Linked DNA regions of Homo sapiens. The protein of the gene in region 1 purifies or fractionates together with the protein of each later gene. This does not show direct contact. Each region holds a gene or a part of one and is shown in the gene's direction. Other genes may lie near its edges.

Region 1 (3,500 bases):
TCTCCAGGTTCCCATTACTTCCCTGTGGCCTTTCCTTTCTAGGAGATGGTGGGATGCTTCCTCGGGATTCAGTCTTCCCCAAGCTCTGTGCAGAGCCCCATTCTTAAATTCAAGTTGAAACATGAACTTTGGTTTAGCTTTAAACCTCTTTAAAAACTAAGTGTCACAGAAAGTCAGATTCATAGACTGGATAGAAGAGCTGAAAGGTATAAGATATAAGCTATAATACCAACCTTCTGGCCAGGCGTGGTAGTTCACACCTGTAATCCCAGCACTTTGGGAGACCGAGGCAGGCAGATCATCTGAGGTCAGGAGTTTGAGACCAGCCTAGCTAACATGGTGAAATCTCGTCTCCACTAAAAAAATACAAAAATTAGCCAGATGTGGTGGCACATGCCTGTAGTCCCAGCTACTTGGGAGGCTGCAGCAGAAGAATTGCTTGAATCTGGGAGGCGGAGGTTGCAGTGAGCCAAGATCACACCACTGCACTCCAGCCTGAGAAACAAGAGTGAAACTCCATCTCAAAAAACAAAAATAAAAACAAAAAAACCAATCTTCCGCAAAGATATAAGACCAACCTTCCCATTTTACAGATGAGAAAACTGAGGCAAGGTCAACAGACAATAAGACAGCCAATGTCTGACTCTTAGTCAAGATTAGTTTTCACTACAACCCCCTCCAGAGATTTATATTTAAGATCTAGCTCTTAAAATATTTGGCCCAATGTATTGAGGTTCCTGACTGGGACAGGGCTAAAGAGAAGGATTGGGGTCGGCCTCCACTGCCTAATTCTTTGGTCTCTAAAGCCTTTCAAGTAGCATTTCCTCCTTGCTTAATTTGGGCAGGCTGCCCATGTTGACATAGAAGTTAAAGGCACACTTTGGTCTCTCTCAAAATAAAGTGCTCCAGAGAAACTAAATATGCAATGGCCATTTGCCCAGCTGCTCTCCTCTTTAGAAGGGGTGCTTTGTTTCTTCAAACCTGCAGCTTGCATTGAGGACCCATACACACAGAGACTGTCCCAGCAGGCTAAAGGAAGATGTGGGCAGAAATACAAACCTTTGCATAGAACATTAGAGCCAGAGGACCTGTTGGAAAGGCATCACGTCCAACCCATTCACTTCTCAAAGGAGAAACATCGTACTACCTCTAACTCCATTAACTTTGAACTCTTTAAGCTTGCTTAACCTGCTGCCTGGAAGCTATCAGCCCTGCTGAACTCAGAAGGCGAGAGCTGTAAGGGATCCTAGAATAACCTAGTCTGTTGTACAGATGAGGACCAGAAGCCCAGAGGGAGGAAGGATTAGCCTGAGAGCCCACAGGTAGTTCAGAGCGGTGGCCAGTCTGGAACACAGATCTCCTAGATATGGTCACTTTACTTACTGCGAAGGGAATGAAACTCATTTCAAGGCCCTTTCAAGGCCTTGTGTCTAATTCTGTATTGAAAAATGTGATTCTTTTCATTAAAGAGGGCTCTCCACATTGTAAAAGTTTCAAGATCCCACAAAATCTAGATCTGCCCCTAGCCACACACCACTAGTCGTTAAGTACCGAGAAAGGGAATCCACGTAGCCCTTGACCTATAATCGGGGGCTAAATACAGCATGGGCCACCAGGGTGATGATAAGGTGGTGAAACCACTACAGTCAGTGATGAAAGCCGTCCGGAGAGGAAAATTGGCTTCTGCGCACTGACAACAGTCTCAGGGGACTCCCTGATGACAGGCTGCCTTTGCTATTGAATCCCTGTCTGGAAGTGAATAATTGTTATTTTAACCAGATAAAATTATAGATATGATCCCATGAAGGTTTTACAATAGTTGGCAACACGGAGACACCAGGATTGTCAAAAATCATTGCCCACCATCAGCTGCGTAGAGCTGAGCTTCAGGCATAAACAAAACATCAAGTCTTAGAACTGGAATGAGCTTATTTTCTTAAAAAAAAATAATAATAATAAGAGACATGTCCTCAGCATCCCCCAGGCCATCCTCTGGGCTGGACAGACAGATAACGGGACACTCCCTTCAACAAGTATAGAATTAAGGGTCAAGCGTCCCCTGAGGCCCACCAAGACCTTTCCAGGACAAACGGGCCTCAGCAAAGAAGGGACTCTGCCATCCTGACACTTTCGTACTGATTAATATTCCCGCCATGGGCTCAGTTCCCTATGCCTGACCCATGTGGTTGGTATTTTTTTCTCCTCCCTTCTTCCACTTTCAGAGCATTCTTATGTGTTTCTGAAGCAACAACTGCTCCCTGCATATATTTCCATCAAATTACCAGAAAGAGAGCTCTGCCCTAGATAACACAATGGAATCAATGCACTGCTAATTGCTTAGGATCCTGAGAGCTTCAAATGCTGGGCTCTAAAAGCACCAGTTCTACTCAGCAGGCTTCCTCTTTTCTTTTCTCTCCATCCCCCTCCCACTCACTCTTGACAATATCCCATGGTTGGTATTCCTAGTGAAAAGTTATTTTGACCCTCAATACAAAATAAGGAAGGTAGTTGGCTTACGGAAATACCCTAGTGCTGTGGTTAAGAAAATGGGCCTTCTCAACAGACCACTAGTTTGAAGCCTTGTTCCATCATTTACTAGTTGTGTGACTTTGGGCAAGTTAGTTAACCAACCTCTCTGGGCTTCTATCTCTGCATTTGTTAGCAGGGATAATAATAGCACTTACCCCATAGGTTTGTTATAGAATTAAATGAAATAATCTTTAGGAAGCACTTAGCACAGTGCCTGGTACAAGTTAAGTACCCAAGAAAGTAGCCATTCTCATCATTGTAGACTTTGACTCTATTTAAAGTGGAAACTCTGAGGGCTTCTAGCATTGTTAACTTTATAAGGCTGAACATCGATGTCAGTGTTGGATTATATTGACTTTTATTCAATCAAAACAGTACTGATCATTCCTTTTAGACAGATAGAAATGAAAAAGCTTAAGACGGAAAAAATGCAAGCAATAGAGGCCAAAATCATAGACTCCAGGAGTCAAAACAAGCCTCCGAGGTGGTAAACCTTGACTTTCCACCCAAAGCCCAAAACCCTTCTGCAATATTGCTGTGGGGTGGCCTCCCTGCCTCTTCCAAAGACAATGATATTTGGGCCTTCCCATTTTAGATCAGCTCTGATATCTGACACCCTGAACTCTCGCACATGTGTCCCAGTTCTGTCTTCTGAAATAATATCATATAATTATCTGGCTGACAGTACTTCAAATATGTCCACCTTCTCCAAGCTAAACATCTTGTCTCTGTTGGTGGTTCATTCACCATCCTAGTCACTCTTCTCTGAATATGATCCAGTTGCTCAGTATCCCTATTAAAAAATGAAGCCCAAAGTTGAAGTGTTATATTCTAGACTTTATCAGACCCGTGCAGGCCATCACGGGTCAGAGGTGACCTTCTAGGTTCTGGAAGACTCTAGGAATGTGTCCTAGGAAAATAACTTTAGGGCAGTTTTTTTCACCGCTACTTCACATGGAGCAACTCCGAGA
Region 2 (3,290 bases), on another chromosome or scaffold:
GATTTCTGTTCTCTTTTCTCAGCTTTTACAAAGTCTGGCTCCAGAGTTGCTAGATTATTTCTGAGACACTTAAATGTATATAGACTTACATGCTTTGTATCTATCAAAGCCTGTGTTAGAATTTAATTTAGAATGTTGTTTACAAAACCATAGGAATTTCAAAATGGAAATGTTCCCAAGGAAGTTTACAAGAGAAAGAAGAAGAAATCTATCTCGTTGGAAAGGCAAAAGCCAGTATTAGCAAGGAGGGGAAATAATTACATTGTCTTTCTTATAAACAACTTGGTAGTTTCTTCCATTTTTATAAGATGAGTAATGAGCACTGATGAATTAAACAGATTTGCTCTTTCCCCCTTATAGGAAAAGGCATTAATAGCTGCTCAGCTGGACAATGCCATTGAGAAGGAATTACTGGAGAGACTGAAACAAGATACGGTGAGAAAGCCATTAGCTTTGGGGTACTGAAATTTTAAGTGGTAGTATGTTGCTAAGACATATTGGGAATTTTTTTTTTTTTTTTTTTTTTTTTTTTTTTTTTTTTTTTTTTTTTTTTGAGATGGAGTCTTGCTTTGTTGCCCAGGTTAGAGTGCAGTGGTGCAATCTCGGCTCACTGCAACCTCTGCCTCCCAAGTTCAAGCAATTCTCCTGCCTCAGCCTCCTGAGTAGTTGGGATTACAGGCACCACCACTGCACCCAGCTAATTTTTGTATTTTTAGTAGAGACAGGGTTTCACCATCTTGGCCAGGCTGGTCTTGAACTCCTGACCTCGTGAGCCACTGTGCCTGGCTGGGAAATGTTTTTTAACATGATATGAAGATCTCCACTCGAATTTTATCCCTGGAATAAAATAAATCCATATCGGCCTGGCTTCCTTGCTTTAATTAATGCAAGCACATAAAATGCTTTGGTTACCCTTGATACTCCATTCACTATAAGAGACCTTTCCCTTTTTGCCATTATTCTCAGCTCCATTCCCCAAGACAACAATTCCAGATTTCTGTATAAAAGCCATGGGGTTTTGCTTCTCCTGCATATTACCCTAGTCTTTTAAGGCTCTTTGAAATAAGTTTTTATTCTCTTTTTAAAAATTAGTGTTGTTTATACAGACAACATGACTAAAGTATGCTTTTTCCTTATTATTTCCCCTTGTCAGCAAAATGACATTTGTCCCAATGCATGGGTTTTGTAGACTATTACATTTTAAATTATTTTAAAATGTAACTCCATAGAAGTTACCTATTTGATACTAACTGCAGATGATTTAAATGTTCAAAAGAACATGCTTTTTTAAGACACTGCTGGCTCTACACTTAAAAATATTACTCATCAAATTAAGTATTCTGATTTAATCACTGAGGAAAAAGTAATATTCTCCACAGAAAGTGGAACTTCAAGTGTAATATCCAAATGTAGTTAAAGCCAATCTGTGTTTATGTTCTTCAGTATGGCGACATCTACAACTTCCCCATTCATGCCTTCGACAAAGCCCTGGAACAACAGGAGGCAGAGAGTGACTCTTCAGATACTGAGGAAAAAGATGATGATGATGATGATGAGGAAGTAAGTCTTGTTTTTGTTTTGCCAAACCTACTAGATACCATTTGTATAAAACTGAGAAACAGAATATCATCTTCAGTCCGCTAACCAAAAATGATATGTCTTCTTTTTTCTTTCATGTGATTAATTTTGGTTTAGCACTGGTTGCTCTGTTCTTCAGGCTAACCAACAAACCATTAACAATTTTAGTCTTAATTTATTGGTCTTCTAAAATTGTTCCTGCAAGGTGACAAATTATAAAGCCTTTCCTGTCTATATGTAGTTTTTAACCATAATGAGGATGTTTTATTGCTAATAATTTAAATCAAGAATAAGAATGATCTGGTAGCCCTAAAATTTTTAAAATTCAGAAGCATTAAATTTAGAAAGAACTAAATTTTCATTGCCTAGTGAAAAGACTGTGGTTCTCATTATGTTATTTTGTACTTACTTAGATGTCTAATCTGAATCTTCATTATGTATTCTGAACCTAACAGTTATGTTTTATTTATAGGATGTGGGGAAAAGAGAATTTGTCGAAGATGGTGAGGTAGATGAGAGTGACATAAGTGATTTTGAGGTGAGCTTTATGGGTAAAAAGATTGTCCTTTGGCCTGCAGCAAAAAAAAAAAAAAAACAAAAACAGGGAGGTGGCCAGGCACCGTGGTTCACTCCTATAATTGCAGCACTTTGGGAGGCCAAAATGGGAGGATTGTTTGAGCTCAGGAGTTCGAGACCAGCCTGAAGAACATAGTGAGACCTCATCTCTAATAAAAAAAAAAATTTTTTTTTTTAGATGAAGTTTCGCTCTGTAGCTCAGGCTAGAGTGCCATAGTGCAATCTGGGCTCATCGCAGCCTCAGCCTCCCGGGTTCAAGCGATTCTCCTCCTTCAGCCTCCCAAGTAGCTGGAATTACAGGCATGTGCCACTCCACCCGGCTAATTTTTTGTATTTTTAGTAGACACGGGGTTTCACCATGTTGGCCAGGCTGGTCTAGAACTCCAGACCTCTGGTAATCCGCCTGCCTCAGTCTCCCAAAGTGCTAAGATTAGAGGCATGAGTCACAGGGCCTGGCCTAAAATTTTTTAAAAATCATGACCAGGCGTGGTGGCTCACGCCTATAATCCTAGCACTTTGGGAGGCCGAGGTGGGCGGATCACATGAGGTCAGGAGTTCGAGACCAGCCTGGCCAACATAGCAAAACCCCGTGTCTACTAAAAATACAAAAATTAGCTAGGTATGGTGGTGCATGCCTGTAATCCCTGCTACTTGGGAGGCTGAGGCAGAAGAATCGCTTGAACCTAGGAGATGGAGGTTGCAGTGAGCTGAGAGCGCACCACTACACTCCAGCCTGGGCAACAGAGCGAGACTCCGTCTCCAAAAAAAAAAAAAAAAAAAATTAAAATTCAGCTGGATGTGGTGGCGGTTGCCTGTAGTCCCAGCTACTCAGGAAGCTGAGGTGGGAGGATTGTTGACTACAGCAGTTTGAGGCTGCAGTGAGCCATGACTATGCCACTGCACTCCTGCTTGGGCAACAGAGCAAGACCCCGTCTCAAAAAAAAAAAAAAAAAAAAATTAAAGAAAGGGACAATTTCTGAACACAGACATAGACAAATCAATGCCCTAGTCTGTTCTAGATTGAGGGGACAAGGAAGGGAGTTTGGAGAAATCTAGTGTTTTCCCTCTTCCTTTATCTTTTCTCTCCCCGTAATAGGATATGGATAAACTGGATGCCAGCAGTGATGAAGATCAGG
Region 3 (3,500 bases), on another chromosome or scaffold:
CTTTTTTGGGACAGAGTCTGGCTCTGTCGCCTAGGCTGGAGTGCAGTGGCACAATCACAGCTTACTACAGCCTCGACCTCCTAGGCTTAAGCAGTCCTTCCACCTCAGCCTCCCAAAGGATTGGGATTACAGGCATGAGCCACTGCCTGGCCTCTAGATTTCTTTGTGGTTATCTTCCTTCTCCTCTTTGTCATCTTTTTGTTGTTCGTTTTGTCTTTTTATTTAGATCTGCTCTGCCTTTTAGATTTCTAAGTGAATATTTTTTAAAAGTTTAAATTTGAAAATTAGCAGGCTGCTCTGTATTCTTAAAGCACATTATTAGACAAGATATGACATAATTAACCATTCAATCAAAGCTTTAAAGTTATATAACACTAAGTGGGCAGAATACAAAAATGTTATGTGTAGTGTAATTATGACTGTACAAAGGAAATGATTAGAGGAAAGAACAAAAAGAAATATACCAAAATGATAAAAAGATAATCGTATTAATTGATAGTAGGTTAGTTCCTTTCAGCCCCCTATCCACCCTTTTACTTTCCAGATGTTCTGCTAATATTTTACTGAAAAAAAAAAAAAGGGGGTGCTTGAAGCTAAAATTTAAACTACATACAAGTAGCTTCATTGTGATATTTCTTTTGGTCACTTTGTTTTGATTCCCCTAAGGGCTACGTTAGTCATGATTGTCTCCTGTCACTCCTGTTTCTGTTGCTGAAAGTATATATCATTGAATTTCTCCTTCCTAGGGGTGTCTTCATTAGATACTTTCTCTCCTCTGTTGACTGTGAGCAAATACATTTGGAGCCATTGTGTATCTGTTCTTTCAGGCAAGAGCAGCTAAACTGTCTGAGGGCAGCCAACCTGCTGAGGAGGAAGAGGATCAAGAAACACCTTCCAGAAACCTAAGGGTCAGAGCAGATCGAAATTTGAAAACAGAGGAGGAAGAAGAGGAGGAGGAGGAGGAGGAAGAAGATGATGAAGAAGAGGAAGGTGATGATGAGGGACAAAAATCTAGGGAGGCACCAATCCTGAAAGAGTTTAAGGAAGAAGGGGAAGAGATACCTAGAGTAAAACCAGAGGAGATGATGGATGAGAGACCCAAAACAAGATCCCAGGAACAGGAGGTGTTAGAGAGAGGAGGGAGATTTACAAGATCCCAGGAAGAGGCTAGAAAAAGTCATCTGGCCAGACAGCAGCAGGAGAAGGAAATGAAAACAACATCTCCCCTTGAGGAGGAAGAAAGAGAAATAAAATCTTCACAAGGCTTAAAGGAAAAATCGAAGTCTCCTTCCCCTCCTCGACTGACTGAAGATCGAAAGAAGGCCTCACTTGTAGCGCTGCCAGAGCAAACTGCCAGCGAGGAGGAGACTCCTCCACCTTTACTAACAAAGGAAGCATCTTCTCCACCACCTCATCCACAGCTCCATAGCGAAGAAGAAATAGAGCCCATGGAAGGCCCAGCCCCCGCTGTCCTCATTCAGTTATCTCCTCCTAATACAGATGCTGACACCAGGGAGCTATTAGTATCTCAGCATACTGTCCAGTTGGTAGGAGGCCTGTCTCCTTTGTCAAGTCCTTCAGACACCAAAGCAGAATCTCCAGCAGAGAAAGTGCCAGAGGAGAGTGTCCTGCCTCTGGTTCAGAAAAGCACACTGGCTGACTACTCAGCCCAGAAGGATCTTGAACCTGAGTCAGACAGATCTGCTCAGCCCCTCCCTCTAAAAATTGAGGAATTAGCACTGGCCAAAGGAATCACTGAAGAATGTCTGAAACAGCCATCTTTGGAACAGAAGGAAGGCAGAAGAGCTTCTCATACCCTTCTCCCAAGCCACAGATTGAAACAGTCAGCTGATTCATCCTCTAGCCGGTCCTCCTCATCTTCCTCCTCCAGTTCTAGATCAAGATCTCGCTCTCCTGACAGTTCAGGTTCTCGGTCTCATTCACCGCTCAGATCCAAGCAGAGAGATGTAGCCCAGGCACGTACTCATGCCAACCCTCGTGGTAGACCCAAGATGGGCTCCAGATCAACATCAGAGTCCAGATCAAGGTCACGTTCACGTTCTCGTTCAGCATCAAGCAACAGCAGAAAAGTGAGTATGAGAGAATCCCGGGTGTATTAATGTTCTGTCATATTCCAGTGGTTTTCATTTCAGCCCCTGGAGAGCCTGTCATGATTTCTGAAAGGAATAGGAAAAGCCTCCTTTACTCTCCTTCACTGATTACTTTCTCCTCATTTCAGAATCGTATTTTCAATTAACTGATTCCCGAAATGGGGTTCTTTTTCATTTTGAGTCCCTTGATAGAATGTTGAATTTATGTACTCATCTCCTCCACTAGATGGAAACTTCTTGAGGATGTGGGCATGCCCTTTTACGTGTGTGTCCCAGGATCTAGCATCTAGTTAAAACTTAATAATTTGTTAAATAAGTGGTCAAGGAGACCACTAAATGGGAATAAACACAGACAAAATGGGAGTAAACACAGACAAAAAGGTCCAGAGTATAAAATTTGGTCCATGGAAACTGGAAAACTCAGCAATCTACTGAATATATACCATATACAATAATTTTCCTTGTTATGTGTTTCATTTTGTTTTAGTCTCTGAGCCCTGGAGTCTCCAGGGACAGCAGCACCAGCTATACTGAAACCAAAGATCCCTCTTCTGGTCAGGAGGTTGCAACTCCACCAGTGCCACAACTGCAGGTCTGTGAGCCAAAGGAGAGGACTTCCACCTCCTCATCCTCTGTCCAAGCAAGGCGTCTGAGTCAGCCTGAATCAGCTGAAAAGCATGTGACCCAGAGGTTACAGCCTGAGCGGGTAGGCTATTGTGACCCCTCCCTACACAGAGATGGAGGATTAAGCAAGATCTTCCCTCTTGTCTTTGCTATAAAACTAAAAAGTTAAGTCTGGACAAGGTTCAGTAGAAATGTGGTGGATACCTGTTAATCCTGCTTAACTCATTTCCAGCTCCCTGGTTCGTAGAAGTTCTACATGAGGCTGAGCAGCAGGGTTATCTCCAGGGCCCCCAGGGTCAATTCTTCCTCATAACTCCTCCTTTTATCTGCCAAAAGGAAGTCAGCCTTTTCTCAGTTCTCTCAAAAAAGAATTCTGTCAGAACAAGGATCACTGAGGAAAAGGAAAAAAATTAAAAATTCTGATAAAATGATTACTGGCATAAATATTCTTGAAGTACCTATTTTTAAGCCATGTTCCTTTCCTTATTCTAAAATGAAATAACAGATACAGAGGGCCGTGTGTGGAGCTGGTACTGTGTATGTCCTGCCCTGCCTTTTTCAGGCTCCAGGTAGAAGAAAAGGAACCAAGCAGATCTAAATGTTTTGCTCTGTTCGTTTTTGCTATCTCCTGACAGGGGAGCCCAAAGAAGTGTGAAGCTGAAGAGGCAGAGCCACCAGCTGCCACACAGCCCCAAACCTCAGAGACTCAGACCTCTCATCTGCCAGAATCAGAAAGAATTCATCACACTGTGTAAGTGATATATC
Region 4 (3,500 bases), on another chromosome or scaffold:
ATAGGATCATCCTACCAAATGAACATCTGTGAGATGGGAAGGAAACTGGTGGTTAGCTCAGTCCTTATGCCCAGTCTGTGCCCAGGGCATGACATCTTTTATCAGTTTAGGATAGATAAGGGTAACTGGATGGTGAAAACTATCCAAAGAGTTGATCAGGGAGCTAGGGTGGCCTGGAGGTGGAAAGATGGGTCCAGTGGTGAGAATTCACTAATACATGAATGAGGTGACTCTGATAGTTGTGAGGATTCAGTGGAAAATCATTATGGTGCAGTAAAAGAACCCTGGTTTGACAGAAGATTCATTCATTCAGCCATTCAGCAGACACGTATTCAGTGCCCATGTTGTTCCGTGCACTGGGTTAGGGGACAGGGGATGAATTGGTGAACAAGATAGGTATAGTCTCTTCTTTGGTTTGGTTTACATCTAACGGGGGAGAAAGACAATTAGCAAGTCTTTATACAAACTATTAAATGTAAAATCAGTCTAGTAATGCATGAATAATTCTCATTGTAAAAAGCTCAAATAAGGTCAGGCACAGTGGCTCACACCTTTAATCCCAGGCACTTTAGGAGGCCAAAACCGGAGGATCACTTGAGGCCAGTTCAAGATCAGCCTGGGCAAAATAGTGAGACCTCATCTCCTCTACCAAAAAAAAAAAAAAAAGAGTTCAAAGCATATGGAAGTATGTAGAATTAAGGTGAAAAACCACCTTCATTTATTCCCCTCTTCCCCCTGCTCTTCTCCCTTCATATGACCATTATCAACAGCTTGTGTGCCCCTTTCCAATAATTTTCCTATGCATTTACATATGTATGTATCATGCACAAGGAACTGAAACTCCAACACAGTATCTTGGAGATCTTTCCATTTAGTACATATGGATTTACCCCTTAATTGTATTGGCTGTGTTGTATTTCGTAGTATAGATGTGCCTTAGTGTATTTATGTATTTCCTTAACAACATCTGGATTGTTTCCTTTTTGTTGTGGCTGTTTAATTATAATTGTGATAAATGTTATAAAGGAGAAGTACCAGGACTTACAATGGATTTTAGTGGGAGTCTTGGGGGGACCTTATTCAGTCTGAGGGTTCAGGGAAGACTTTCCTGAAGAAGTGAGTTGCATGCTGAGCCCCGAAGGATGATTAGAAATTAAATGGATTAGAGGTACTGATAGAATGTGGAGGCTGAGGCCGGGCGCGGTGGCTCACACCTGTAATCCCAGCACTTTGGGAGGCCGAGGCTGGTGGATCACCTGAGGTCAGGAGTTCGAGAACATCCTGGCCAACTTGGTGAAAGCCCTGTCTCTACTAAAAATACAAAAATTAGCCAGGTGTGGTGGCGGGCGCCTGTAATCCTAGCTACTGGAGAGGCTGAGGCAGGAGAATCGCCTGAACCTGGGACAGAGTTTGCAGTGAGCCAAGATCATGCCATTGCACTCCAGCCTGGGCGTCACGAGTAAAACTCTGTCTGAAAAAATGAAAAAAAAAAAGGGCCGGACGTGGTGGCTCATGCTTGTAATCCCAGCAATTTGGGAGGCTGAGGTGGGTAGATCACCTGAGGTCAGGAGTTCAAGACCAGCCTGACCAACATGGAGAAACCCCATCTCTACTAAAAATACAAAATTAGCCGGGCATGTTGGCGTGTGCCTGTAGTCCCAGCTGCTCAGGAGGCTGAGGCAGGAGAATTGCTTGAACCTGGGAGGCAGAGGTTGTGGTGAGCTGAGATCATACCATTGCACCCCAGCCTGGGCAAACAAGAGTGAAACTCCATCTCAAAAAAAAAAAAAAAAAAAAGGAATATGGAGGCTGAGAAACATTCCAGGCAGAAGGAGGAGAATGTACAAAGGTCCGGGCTCAGTTTGAGAAACAGCGAAGGTTACCATTGGTAGGTTGTAGAAAGCAAGAGTAATAAAGATCTGAGCTGAGACTGGTGAGGTAGGTAGATGCCAAACCCTTAGAGGCCACAGTAAGGATTTTAGTGTTTATTCTAAGAGCAATGGGAAACGGTTAAAATTAAAGCCTTTTCAAAATGGGGGCAAGAGGGGTTGCAGCAGTTGATTTCATCAGCAGAGGTGAGAAATGAGGGTAGTTTGGACTAGGTGGTGGAATTGGAGGGTAGTAGAAACTTCTGAGAGAGATTTGGTTTGGGAAAGCTTGTTGACTGGAGATGCATGCTTTAGGTGGGCATTCATCAGAACCCTTTTGCCTGATTGGGCATGTCGGGAACACTGCAAGAACCAGGTTTGGCTTTAAAAGTAGAAATCAATTTGGGACCTCTGAGTCTGCATTACTATGGGTCATCTAGGGAGATGTCGAGTAGGCAGTTGGGAATAATACAGCTGTGTCTGCAGCTGTCAGTCCACAAAGACCAGAAAAATTCTGTTTCTTCAAAGCTTTACACCAAAACTCATTTGGCAGCAAAACATTTCCTGTACTAGGGAGATTAGATTAATAGGCAGTGTATGTATACATTTCATATTACCTTTCTACAATCAGAGAAAAAAATTGAAGTATGTCTGGCCCCAGCGTTTTCCATAAAGGATTGGGGGCCTGAAATAGCATGTGCAAAAGTATCATTTAGCACTTACCATGCATCAGGCACTTTTTTTTTTTTTTTTTTTTTGCACCGGTGTCTCACTCTGTCGCCCAGGCTGGAGTGCAGTGGCACGATATCGGCTCACTACAACCTCTGTCTCCCTGGTTCAAGTCATTCTCCTGCCTCAGCCTCCCAAGTAGCTGGGATTACAGGTGCACGCCACCATGCCCGGCCAATTTTTTCTATTTTAGTAGAGACGGGGTTTCACTGTGTTGCCCAGGCTGGTCTATAACTCCTGAGCTCAGGCAGTCCACCTGCCTTGGCCTCCCAAAATGCTAGGCTTATAGGTGTGAGCCACCACGCCCAGCTGCATCAGGCACTCTTTTAAGACCTTTAACATATATGAACTCATTTAATCCTCATAACTACCCTGTGAGGTTGTAAGTATTATGATTATTCCCATTTTAGAGATGAAGAAATGAGTCACAAAAGGGAACTTGCCCAAGGTTACACAGCTAATGAGTGGAGCCAGGATTTGAAACTGGGCAGTCTGTCTACAAAATCCATGCCCATAACCACCACATTGTGTTGACTCCCAGTGTGTCTGCAGTTCAGAGGAGCAGTTTGGACTGTGGACAAAATGTGAGCACCATAGAATTATGGAGAGGGAGTCTGGTGAGCCACGAGAACTCCAACATTTAATGTTTGTGTAGAAGATGATGAACTGGTCCAGAAAACTGAGACAGAGCAGCCAGAAAGGTTAGGAAAACCAGAAGTGGCATAGGCTTATGGAAGCCAGTGAAAAAGAAGACTTTAAGAAGGGGATGGGCGCCTGTAATCCCAGCACTTTGGGAGGCCGAGGTGGGCAGATCACTTGAAGTCAGGAGTTCAAGACCAGTCTGGCCAACATGATGAAATCCCGTCTCCACTAAAAATACAAAAATTAGCCTGGTGTGGTGGC
Region 5 (3,500 bases), on another chromosome or scaffold:
GGCATGTGCCACCAGCCTGGCTAATTGTTGTATTTTTTTTTGTAGAGAAGGGTTTTTGCCATGTTGCCCAGGCTGGTTTCGAACTCCTGGGCTCAAGCAATCCTCCTGCCTTGGTCTCCGAAAGTGCTGGGATGACAGGCGAGAGGTATGGCTGGCACACCTTTGATACTATTTATGTAACTTTGTTTATCTGAACTTCTCTCCCCTCTCCGTCCAGCTTTTTTTTTTTTTTTTTTTTCAATGTTGCCTGCTACTTTTGGCCTTTGGTTGGTAGTTTCTGTTTCCTTTCCCTAGGTAAGGATTTACAATGATTCTAGGTAAGTGTGCAAATAAATGAGTGTATTTTGGATTCCTGGCCCCCTGTCTTAGAAAGGAGAAGCTCTCCATCAGCTTAGGGACAGAGAGCTCTGTACAGGAAATCCAGTTCAAAAAGGTCAAGACCCATTCTTGACCTACCCACTTAATATCTAATTAAGCATCAATATTGGAAATTTTGTATTTTTTATTTTTTGGACAAATGAATTCTATCCTTATCACTCAGCTTCAGAAAACTTAACCCTTAATACCATCCTCTGTCTCTTGAAATGAGCGTGGCTTCCTGTTTCTGAGAATGCCTTCACCCTTAATACCATCCTCTGTCTCTTGAAATGAGCGTGGCTTCCTGTTTCTGAGAATGCCTTCAAGCCCTGTAATTTTAGGCAAAACCTTCAGGCTAACAACTTCAGGTTTGCAAGCATTCATCATTGATATATGATAGGATTTCCTGGCCTTCCTTCTCGTTATGCAATTTGCTAAAGGAGACACCTGGAAGGCAGAAAGCCCTGCTTCTTCTAATCTGCTTCATATCTCATTGGTGCAGCTTCTCCTTGTCTCAGAGGAAAAAGAATGCAGAAATTGGGGGTTAGTGAGGGGTAAATAGACAGGAAACTTGTGAGAAGGAAGTCTGTGTTACCAAGCTCGTTAGCATTTGTCCAGCCCCTGTCTTCTCTCCACAGCTCTGTAAGAATTTGCCATGTGACAGTTCTCAGTAGCTTTTGTTTGTTTTGTTTTGTTAAGACAGAGTCTCTCTGCATCGCCCAAGCTGGATGCCATGGCAGGATCTTGGCTCACTACAACCTCTGCCTCCCAGGTTCAAGCGATTCTCCTGCCTTAGCCTCCAAGTAGCTGGGATTACAGGCACGCACAACTATGCCTGGCTAATTTTTGTATTTTTAAGTGATTACAGGCACACACAATTATGCCTGGCTAATTTTTGTATTTTTAAGTAGAGACGGGGTTTCACCATGTTGGCCAGGCTGGTGTCGAACTCCTAGCCTCAAGTTATCCCCCCACCTCAGCCTCCCAAAGTGCTGGGATTACAGGTGTGAGCCACTGTACCCAGCCTTTTTTTTTTTTTTTTAATTTTCTAAAATCATTCAAGAAGAACAGTTTGTAAACAAATATCTTTCCACTTCTGTTCCCCAAAAAGTATTGGTTGTTAAGAGTAACCATGGGTTGCTAATTGTGAAAGCAGTGATGAGCATACATGAAGATTCATTATACATTATTCTCTCTACCTATGTATATGTTAGTTTTCCATAATGAAAAGTTAAAAAGGGTTTTATGAAGTCTAATCAGAGCTTTGTACACAACTATTATTTGAAGCTCCGTCACTGTGGGAAGCGTCAGATTTATGGTTTCTAATCCGAGTCCAACCTGTTGTTTATTAAAAACAAAAGAAAATCTGGAGGTTCCTAAGGCATGTCTTAGTATGAACACTTTTAACATGCCAACTGTTAAAAAGACAATGGTTGGTTTGGATGCGAGTGTTTAATTTGTGCCAAATTACACAGGATACAGTAAATATTTAGGGAATGGCAAGAATACAATAAATCCTCTAGGCCTTCCTAATTCAGTTGGTTAGGAAAATCTCACTATGACCTTTCTGTAACAAAAGAGACAGGCTCCTGTTCAGTTTTACCTACTGTACAGTCTCCTTTATTCCATGATCCTTAGGCCAAGGAGACACTGTTCTCATTTACTCAAGACGAATTTGTGTCCAAAGCCCACATTTATGCCTATAGTCAAAAATAGCTCTCCACTTTGGGAGGCTGAGGCAGGCAGATCACTTGAGGTCAGGAGTTCGAGACCAGCCTGGCCAACATGGTGAAACATCGTCTCTACTAAAAATGTAAAAATTAGCTGGGTGTGGTGGCGCATGCTTTAATCCCAGCTACTGGAGAGGCTGAGGCAGGAGAATTGTTTGAACCAGGGAGTCAGAGGTTGCAGCGAGCCAAGATTGTGTCACTGCACTTCAGCCTGCCGACAGAGGGAGATTCTGTCTCAAAAAAAAAAAAAAAAGAAAAGAAAAGAAAAAAATTAAAAATTAGCCAGGCAAGCTGGCACTCACCTGTAGTCTGTAGTTTCAGCTACTCAGAAGGCTGAGGAAGGTCACTTGAGTGTGGGAGAAAGAGGCTGCAGTGAGCTATGACCATGCCATCATACTCCAGCTTGAGTGACAGAGGAAGAACCTTTCTTGAGGAAAGAAAAGAAAAGGCATATGGAGCTGTGCTCTGGTCAGAGAGACTGAGGAAAGGCTGGCTGAGCTGAGACTTGAAGGAGGGTGGAGTGAGGCCTGTGTGCAAAGTATCCTCTCTGCCTGATTCACCTCACCCTGAGATGGCAAAAGGCAAGGTGAGTTCTGGGGTAGATAGAAACCCTGAGTGGATGGGGGTGCAATCAGGAGATGGTGTGACAAACCTGGCAGGTAGGCCAGCTGCTAGCCCTGAGAGTTCCCTCATGCTAATTACTAAGGCACTTCTTCCTCTCCTAGCAGTTACAGCCAAAGCCAAATTTTGGCCTTGGCTTGTGGAGTGTGTGACCTGGATTCCAGGCCCCACTTACCCCCTCAGCCAGGCACCAACTCCACACCTATATACAGTGGCCCTGGCTGCAGAGGCAGGCAGGGGCCAGACCCTGCGAAGCCTTGTAGAATGTTTAAAGAATTCTGTTTTTAGTTTAAGAACAATGAAAAGAAAATGGTTGGGTGGGTTCATATTTGCAGTGATCCCTCTGGCTGATTAAGGACCACAGAGAAACATCGCCAATTTAGAGAAGTCCACCGTGAGTATATTGTTCCCCACTTTTTCGGTGAGTCAGCCTTCCTCAGAAACCACACTTCAAAAATAGCTTTTTCGGCTAGAAAATTGGAACTCAGTGCAAAGCTGCCTGTACTCCTCAGGAAATATTTTGCTGCCTCTTTGGTGGTTCTTTTTGGCCTTGCAGCCTGACAGGAGTCACCAAATGTGGCCTTGAGTTGATCCGAGGATTTCTGTTATGGCAAACTTTTATTGCCAACTTTGCAATTGGTGGCCTTGGACAAATTTATTAACTTGTATATTCTTTAGCTTGCTTACGTGTAAAATGAGGTGGGTTAGCAAGATCCTTCCTAGCTCTAAAATTTTGTGAGATTTTTTTTTCCCCTTTCAGTAACTTGTGGTAAAACTATAGACATAGCTACT
Region 6 (3,500 bases), on another chromosome or scaffold:
TAAGGCTCTGCCTCTGGGAGAACCGTGTATGCTTTCTGAGAGTGGAGAGAGGCTTACTACGAACTTGGTCAAAATTCCTGGTGGTGACACATCATAATGCCAACTTTCCAAGGGTGTGGCTTGGCTCCAGCTCACGTTGGAATCACAACGCAGCAGACAGCTGTGGAACTCCTCGGACACAGGGCATTGGAGGGCCCAGGAAGATATACCGTGGCAGGGGAGTGGGTCTGTGTTTGGCATCTTGTGCTTTGCAGTGAACCAGAGCTCACTGTTTCTGTTTCATCCCCGCACCACTAGCTGCTGTCAGCGCAGGCCATGGCCTGCCTGCCAAGTTTGTGATCCACTGTAATAGTCCAGTTTGGGGTGCAGACAAGTGTGAAGAACTTCTGGAAAAGACAGTGAAAAACTGCTTGGCCCTGGCTGATGATAAGAAGCTGAAATCCATTGCATTTCCATCCATCGGCAGCGGCAGGTAGGGGCACATGCTTGTTACGTATCGGTCATGGGTGTGTCTCTCTGCGCACACATGGCCCATAATTGTGGTGCTCTCACTCTGTGCAAGGCCCACGGAGGCTGCCTTAACCAAGGAGACCAGAAGCACAACACAGGGAAGAATGCAGACATTAAATGATGGTGAGGGACAATTAGAGAGACCCAAATCCCAAGGATGATATAAAACTTAAGTTTTGATAGCAAATGTCATCACAGAAGGGGAACCCAGTGTGTACTGGGACCACAGAAATGGTACCTCAGAGAGTAAGTTTTGAGGGGCACAGTGACTTGGGTGGAGAAGATCTGGAGGCGTGAATACAGGGATACAAACGAACAGCTTGGCTGTCTCAGAATAAGGCTATAGCTGTGTTATGGTCTGTCCCCCAAACCACAGTATTCTTTGGATAAAGCCCTCTGCCCCTTTCCTTTCTACTCACAAGTATATTTCACCTCCTGAGAACCTGCATCTCTACCTGACTCCCTGTCTTACTGCCCTAGGGTAACCCTGCTGGCCTGCTAATGAGGTAATGGGACCTGGTGGAACGGAATGGGGAATTACGTGAGATTGAAACAGGGCTGGGCCCTACTCCACTTCCTGTCCCAGAAAATCCCCAGGTAGACTCACCAAGGTCTTCACGACCAACACAGTTGCCCCTAAGACATACACATACCCGGAGGACCACCACAGGAGAAGTCTAGTTTTTCGACAGCTGATGATGCAGGTAGGGCTCAGGGCAACCCCCACAATACCTACCTGGTTGTACACCCCACACATGTCAGCAAATAACCTATCAGGTTCCTGCCTGTTGGAGCAGCACTGCACTCTGGCTTAGGGGTCAGGCCTGGAGTTGCATCCTGGCTTGGCCACTAACCCGGTGAGTGATGACATGTAAATTAACCCCCATTCTGAGAAGTTGGCATAATAATCCCCCCATGCAGTATCTCAGGGTTGCTCTAGAAATTAAAGGAGCTCTTAGAAGGCAGAGTGCTTTCAGAAGTGTGTCCCATGATGCAGACATGAGGACCTGTCAGGGCAGAGCCACCTCTGAGATTGTGTCCCACTGCCCATTGCTAGGGTCCTCCCTACCAAGGGTCTAAGTCCAAGAGTCCAAGGCCTCTGGAAGGCTCGAGGTCTGCATTGGGCACTGAAGCAAAGAGAAACTGGCCTTTAGAGGCTGTAGCTGTTAACAACTTGCGCCCAAGAGGAGCCATAACCTGGGGTTCTGTATTGGCAGGTGGCTTGCTTTGGACAGAGTACCTGCCACTGCTCCTGGGGCTTCCCATCCCAGCTTGTGAGCCTTCTGGGGTCTCTGCCCATCAGCCCCTCCCAGCACCCAAGGAAGGCAGGGCTGTGCAGCATCAACTGCCTATGACACTGCAGGCTGTCCCTTCTGGGCGAGCCTGAGCAACAGTCCTCAGAACCATGTCCTGAACTGACAGCTGCTCTCTGCAAAGCACTTTCCTTCCAAACTTTCTAGAGGATAGAGAGTAGATTTTGCCATTTTCCGCTTAGGCAGGCCTCGTGATTTTGCCTCCTGCATGCTGCCATCACTGAGGTCCCACACCTCAAGTACTGGTGGCAGAACTAGTACAGAGTGGGCTTCCTGTCACTTGACATTCTGCCTAGTAAAAGGCCTTGTCCACAGGCAGATGGGCACTGCCACCGTTCCCCAGGGCTTTCTATGGCCAAGGCCATGTGTGACTGGCAGGACCCACCAGTACCAGGCTCTGGGGAAAGATCTCTGGTTGCACCTGAACCTTCTCTGGAGCCTGTATCACTGCCCGCCACCCGCCGCCACCCCCACTTCTCCCAGTCAAGGGCAAAACAGCAGAATGAGCATTTCCCCAGCAACCCCTCACCAGTTGTTGAGCTATGGGCAGGCTTGCCTCCCCCTTCCCTGGCCTCACATCTCTGGGCTGTCTGGTCCTGGGGTTCTGTGAGTGAGGCCCCTCAGCTCTCCTATCCTGTGTGACCTTTGGTTAAATGAATCAGCCTCTCTGCCCTGGTCTGCCTTATCAGCAAGTGAGGCTATAGGGACTGCCCATCCTCACAAATGGTTCTGAGGCTCAGTTAATTAGTGCTTTCAATGCACTTTGATCTGCTCTGATGAAAGGTGCTTCCGCAGAGGGAGGCAATAGGAAACTTTATTGGAGGTAATAATTTCACAACCTTTCATATGGGTATTGGGAAATTTTTAATTGAAGCATAAAAGTAATTCTCATAAAAGAGCATCTGTTATTACAAACTTATTTACATTTTTCATGGAGTAAAAAGTAGGAATAAAAATAATCAATTGAAAGCTTGAAGAGGGGGAAATGCCTAAGGCAGCACATGTGTACAGCTACCCAGGCCACATCTGCCAGGCAGACCTCACCCCATAGAGCTGTGTAAACAGCTGCCCTCTCTTTCATGAGTAAAAAAAAATGGGATTACACCAGAGCCGGCCAGTAAATCACAGTGGGTTTTAGGAGGGGAAATAAAACAGCTTGTTTGTTGCATCCAGTGTCTCTGGCACGGAAGTAATGTTGGAATTAAAACAGTATAAAGGTAAGCATGTTGGGAAAGAGCCATTGGTAAAGGATCACTCTCTTAGCTGAGGCCCAGTGGCACAGCCTACATGGATGGAAGATGACCATAACCACACCTGTGTGATGGCTCCCTCCAGCCTGTGAGGCCCTGGCATCTGGACATCCTGTCCTCAGCCATTCTGGTCACGATATTTATGGATACCCCCACTCCCTCAGCTCTGTTTCACATTAGGGGTGACCCCTCTCCAGAGGGGTAGTACATAGGGAATACTAGTTTGGGGCTTTGATTAAACTTTCCTTAGATTTATAAGCTTAAAAGGAAAAGCTGGTTTATTTTTTTCAAGCTACTATTTATGGGTATGTGTTGAGCCCCAGGCGCGGTGCTAAACCCTTTATCTGCATTATCTCACAGCAACCCTACAAGGTGAACAGCATTATTCCTTTCAAGGGCAAAGAAACTGAAGCATAGAGGGGTTAAG
Region 7 (3,500 bases), on another chromosome or scaffold:
TGAGTGTGGTGATGTGCACCTGCAGTTCTAGCTACTTGGAGGCTGAGGTGGGAGGGTTGCTGGAGCCCAGGAGATGGAGGCTGCAGTGAGCTGTGATCACACTGCTGTACCCCCGCCTGGTGACAGAGTGAGATCCTGTCTCAAAAAAAAAAAAAAAAAAAAAAAGAATGTAGTGAAATAATATATGTCAAAGCGCTGGAATTATTTTTTCTGGGATCATTAATTTTGCCATAGAACAACCCTGGGAGCATGCTTAGTGAAATTGTCAACATAGAGACATTGTACAGTTCACCATGCTTTGTTTTTCAGTCCCCAAAAGAAACTAAACATGCTTTGTTTTTCAGTCCCCAAAAGGTTTGCAGTATCAGTTTTCAAATGCATTTATAGATCATTCAGAATTCATATTAAAACTACCCTTGATGCTTATTTAAATACTGGACTTTTAATAATAGTTGCTGTGGCCTTTACTAAAAGCATTATAAGTCCTTAATTATACATTATTTATTAGTATTGGGAATTGGCTGAAAGAAATACCATCCCAGGTCAATTAGATCAACAACTACAGCATATGTCAGACAGTGGTACCAAAGCATGTCTTTTGGGAAAACAAGGTTTATGTCTAAGATTGAATTAGTTGTAGTAAAGTGGAAATACCTGGAGGTAGTGTTAGGGGAGCCTTTTGAAAAGCAATTTATTGGGGCTGAGTGCAGTAGCTCATGCCTGTAATCCCAGCACTTTGGGAGGCCACAGTGAGAGGACTGCTTGAGGCCAGCCTGGGCAACATAGTGAGACCCCATCTGTACAAAAAATTAAAATTAGCCAAGTATGGTGGTGCATACAGTCCTGGCTACTTGGGGGGCTGACATGGAAAGATCCTTTGAACCCAGGAGTTCAAAAATTCAGTAAGCTATGATCATAACACTGCTCCCTAGCCTGAGTGACAGAGTGAGACTCTGTCTCTTAAAAAAAGAAAACAATTTATTAAAGCAATGATTTTCAAACTTTAGTGTACATCAGGTTTACCTAGAAACTGCTGGGCCCCACTTCCAGCTTCTGATTTGGTACATCTGGGGTAGGGCCTGAGACTTTGCATTTCTAAGAAATTCCCAGATGCTGTTGCTGCTGTCCAGAGACCATATTTGAGACCCATGATATTAAACCAATCCAATGTACTGGTAACAGTCTAAAAGATGGATAGTTTAAAGTGTGGGTGAGATTGTGGGAAAACAGAAACACTGGAGTACTGCTGATGGGAGTGTAATTTGTTATAAACACTTTAGGAAATATCCTGATAATACCAAATAAAGTTGAAGTCCACCATGGATGGATCTAAGAAAATTTAGAATATAAAAAGCAAATCATAGACTGATAAGTATAATATGATGTCATTTATATACATTCTTTAAAAGCATACATAAATCACTATATTATTTGTAGATACATGTATGAAAATGGGAATTAGATTGGAAGGGTACCCATGAAATATGATAGTACCAAAACCCCTCAAACCATGAGGAACTATGTCTGAACCAGTGGGAATATTGTGCTTCTAGTCAAGGAATGTGATTGATCATTGTGTTCCTAAGCTGCTGTCCTACAGAGAGAAAAAATAAATTGATTCCTCTTGACAAATGAGTTCCACAAAGTTGTATGTGTTTTGGGCGGTAGAATTCTTAAACATGCATTCTTCTCAAATTTTGAGCTGCTTCCTAGCTCCTAATGTCCTGGTTATTTAGTGAATGTCTGTGTTCACTTTATCTGCCCAAGACCAAGACAAAGGGTGGTGCTGAGGAAGAGCCTTCTCCTGTGAAAGCCGGGCCCCTACCTCACCTCTTCCTGACCCAGCAAAGACACAGATAATCCCATTCTGTTCCCCAGTTTAGTAAGTGGACATGACTCTCCACTTCTGTGCTTTGTTCTGATGGAAAAGGACTATTTTCTTTCACAGAAAAGACAATTATGGAGCCATATTAATGTGGTTCAAATTCCATTTCTATCACTCATTAGCTGTTGGATTTCGAACAAGTTTTTTTTTTTTTTTTTTTTTTTTTTGAGACAGGGTCTCATTCTGTCACCCAGGCTGGAGTGCAGGCACGATCATGGCCCACTGCAGCCTCGACATCCCAGGCTCAAGCAATCCTTCTACCTCAGCTCCCCCGAGTAGCTGGGACCACAGAATCATGCCACCATAATTGGCTCATTTTTGTATTTCTTGTAGGGACAGGTTTCACCATGTTGTCCAGGCTGGTCTCGAATTCCTGAGCACAAGCAATCTGCCTGCCTTGGCCTCCCAAAGTGCTGGGATTACAGGCATATGCTACCATACCCAGCTGTTTAACCTTTCTAAGTTTAGTTTGTGATTTTGTTGTGGTCTTTTGACAAAAGGTTTTTTTTTGTTTTGTTTTAGAACAGCTTTATTGAGATAATTCATGTACCATACAATTCATATACCATACAATTCATCCATATATAGTGTACAGACAAAAATGTTATATTAACCACCTAAATTTAGTATCTCAATGGTTAGTACTCATCTAAATGCATAATTTATGCTAAATGTGAAATAGGTCTATTTTTTAAAAAAATATTTTATTTTGTTATTTTATTTTATTTTATTTTATTTTATTTTATTTTATTTTATTTTATTTGAGACAGGGTCTCAGTTTATTGCCTTGCTGGAGTGCAGTGTCACAATCACGGCTCACTGGAGCCTTGACTTCCCAGGCTCAGGCAATCCTGTCACCTCAGTCCCCCAAGTAGCTGGGTCTACAGGTACGCACTATCAGGCCCAGCTAATTTTTAAATTTTTTGTAGAGATGGGGTCTCAACTCACCTTGTTGCCCAGGCTGGTCTTGAATTCCTGGCCTCAAGCGATGCTTCTGTCTCAGTCTCCCAAAGTGCTGGGATTACAGGCATGAGCCACCGTACTGGCCTCTTTTGTTTTTTTAATAGAGATGATTATTTTGTCCTTTCTTTCTTTATACCATGCTTTCTCATATGATAGTTTCTAGTACTGTTCAACTGTGATCAAAGTATGCTTTGTTTTATAGCTTATTCTTCTCTTTGGAGGAATACCTTATCTCTGGAGACTTTCTGGACGGTTCTGTGGTTATGCTGGCTTTGGACCAGAATATGAGGTATGTGATTCATTAGCATGTATTTGTCATGGTATTTCTTTTAGCTTGGCAGGCTTTCCACTAAAGTTAATTTTTTGGCTTCTGCCAATGTTAAGATTTGCCTCTCTGTTTGCATAGTCCTTGGTTACCCATGCTGTATTGGCATAACATTAGTTACAATAACAAATCCCAGAATATCACAGGCTTATTTGCAATGGTTTATTTCTCAATCACGTAATAGTCCAGTGTGAGTATTTTTAGTTATCAGGTGACTTTCTTCCATGTGGTAAGCCAAGAATCCAGGCTCTTTATCTTAGGGATTTGTCTGTATGATTTAAGGTACCTTTCATATAGTGCCTGTGTAATAAAAAAGGAATTGTTTTG

The links.
Region 2: the proteins of TECTB (region 1) and MAK16 purify together in Homo sapiens (affinity purification with mass spectrometry; one large-scale study listed by BioGRID and IntAct). This does not show direct contact.
Region 3: the proteins of TECTB (region 1) and ACIN1 purify together in Homo sapiens (affinity purification with mass spectrometry; one large-scale study listed by BioGRID and IntAct). This does not show direct contact.
Region 4: the proteins of TECTB (region 1) and RDH11 purify together in Homo sapiens (affinity purification with mass spectrometry; one large-scale study listed by BioGRID and IntAct). This does not show direct contact.
Region 5: the proteins of TECTB (region 1) and ARL6IP5 purify together in Homo sapiens (affinity purification with mass spectrometry; one large-scale study listed by BioGRID and IntAct). This does not show direct contact.
Region 6: the proteins of TECTB (region 1) and MACROH2A1 purify together in Homo sapiens (affinity purification with mass spectrometry; one large-scale study listed by BioGRID and IntAct). This does not show direct contact.
Region 7: the proteins of TECTB (region 1) and ZMPSTE24 purify together in Homo sapiens (affinity purification with mass spectrometry; one large-scale study listed by BioGRID and IntAct). This does not show direct contact.

Annotation. Positions count from the first base shown.
Region 1 is NC_000010.11:112,286,400-112,289,899, forward strand, and holds part of TECTB (beta-tectorin precursor), read left to right. Parts: intron 1-3,500. UniProt on the Homo sapiens protein: One of the major non-collagenous components of the tectorial membrane. The tectorial membrane is an extracellular matrix of the inner ear that covers the neuroepithelium of the cochlea and contacts the stereocilia bundles of specialized sensory hair cells.
Region 2 is NC_000008.11:33,495,182-33,498,471, forward strand, and holds part of MAK16 (protein MAK16 homolog), read left to right. Parts: intron 1-360; coding exon 361-435; intron 436-1,443; coding exon 1,444-1,560; intron 1,561-2,050; coding exon 2,051-2,116; intron 2,117-3,250; coding exon 3,251-3,290.
Region 3 is NC_000014.9:23,078,137-23,081,636, reverse strand, and holds part of ACIN1 (apoptotic chromatin condensation inducer in the nucleus), read left to right. Parts: exon of another isoform or gene 1-827; coding exon 828-2,090; exon of another isoform or gene 2,091-2,177; intron 2,178-2,598; coding exon 2,599-2,817; intron 2,818-2,939; exon of another isoform or gene 2,940-3,370; coding exon 3,371-3,486; intron 3,487-3,500.
Region 4 is NC_000014.9:67,685,765-67,689,264, reverse strand, and holds part of RDH11 (retinol dehydrogenase 11), read left to right. Parts: intron 1-3,500. UniProt on the Homo sapiens protein: Retinol dehydrogenase with a clear preference for NADP. Displays high activity towards 9-cis, 11-cis and all-trans-retinol, and to a lesser extent on 13-cis-retinol.
Region 5 is NC_000003.12:69,091,437-69,094,936, forward strand, and holds part of ARL6IP5 (PRA1 family protein 3), read left to right. Parts: intron 1-3,500. UniProt on the Homo sapiens protein: Regulates intracellular concentrations of taurine and glutamate. Negatively modulates SLC1A1/EAAC1 glutamate transport activity by decreasing its affinity for glutamate in a PKC activity-dependent manner.
Region 6 is NC_000005.10:135,340,232-135,343,731, reverse strand, and holds part of MACROH2A1 (core histone macro-H2A.1), read left to right. Parts: exon of another isoform or gene 1-297; coding exon 298-472; exon of another isoform or gene 473-577; intron 578-3,500. UniProt on the Homo sapiens protein: Variant histone H2A which replaces conventional H2A in a subset of nucleosomes where it represses transcription. Nucleosomes wrap and compact DNA into chromatin, limiting DNA accessibility to the cellular machineries which require DNA as a template.
Region 7 is NC_000001.11:40,264,736-40,268,235, forward strand, and holds part of ZMPSTE24 (CAAX prenyl protease 1 homolog), read left to right. Parts: intron 1-3,050; coding exon 3,051-3,137; intron 3,138-3,500. UniProt on the Homo sapiens protein: Transmembrane metalloprotease whose catalytic activity is critical for processing lamin A/LMNA on the inner nuclear membrane and clearing clogged translocons on the endoplasmic reticulum.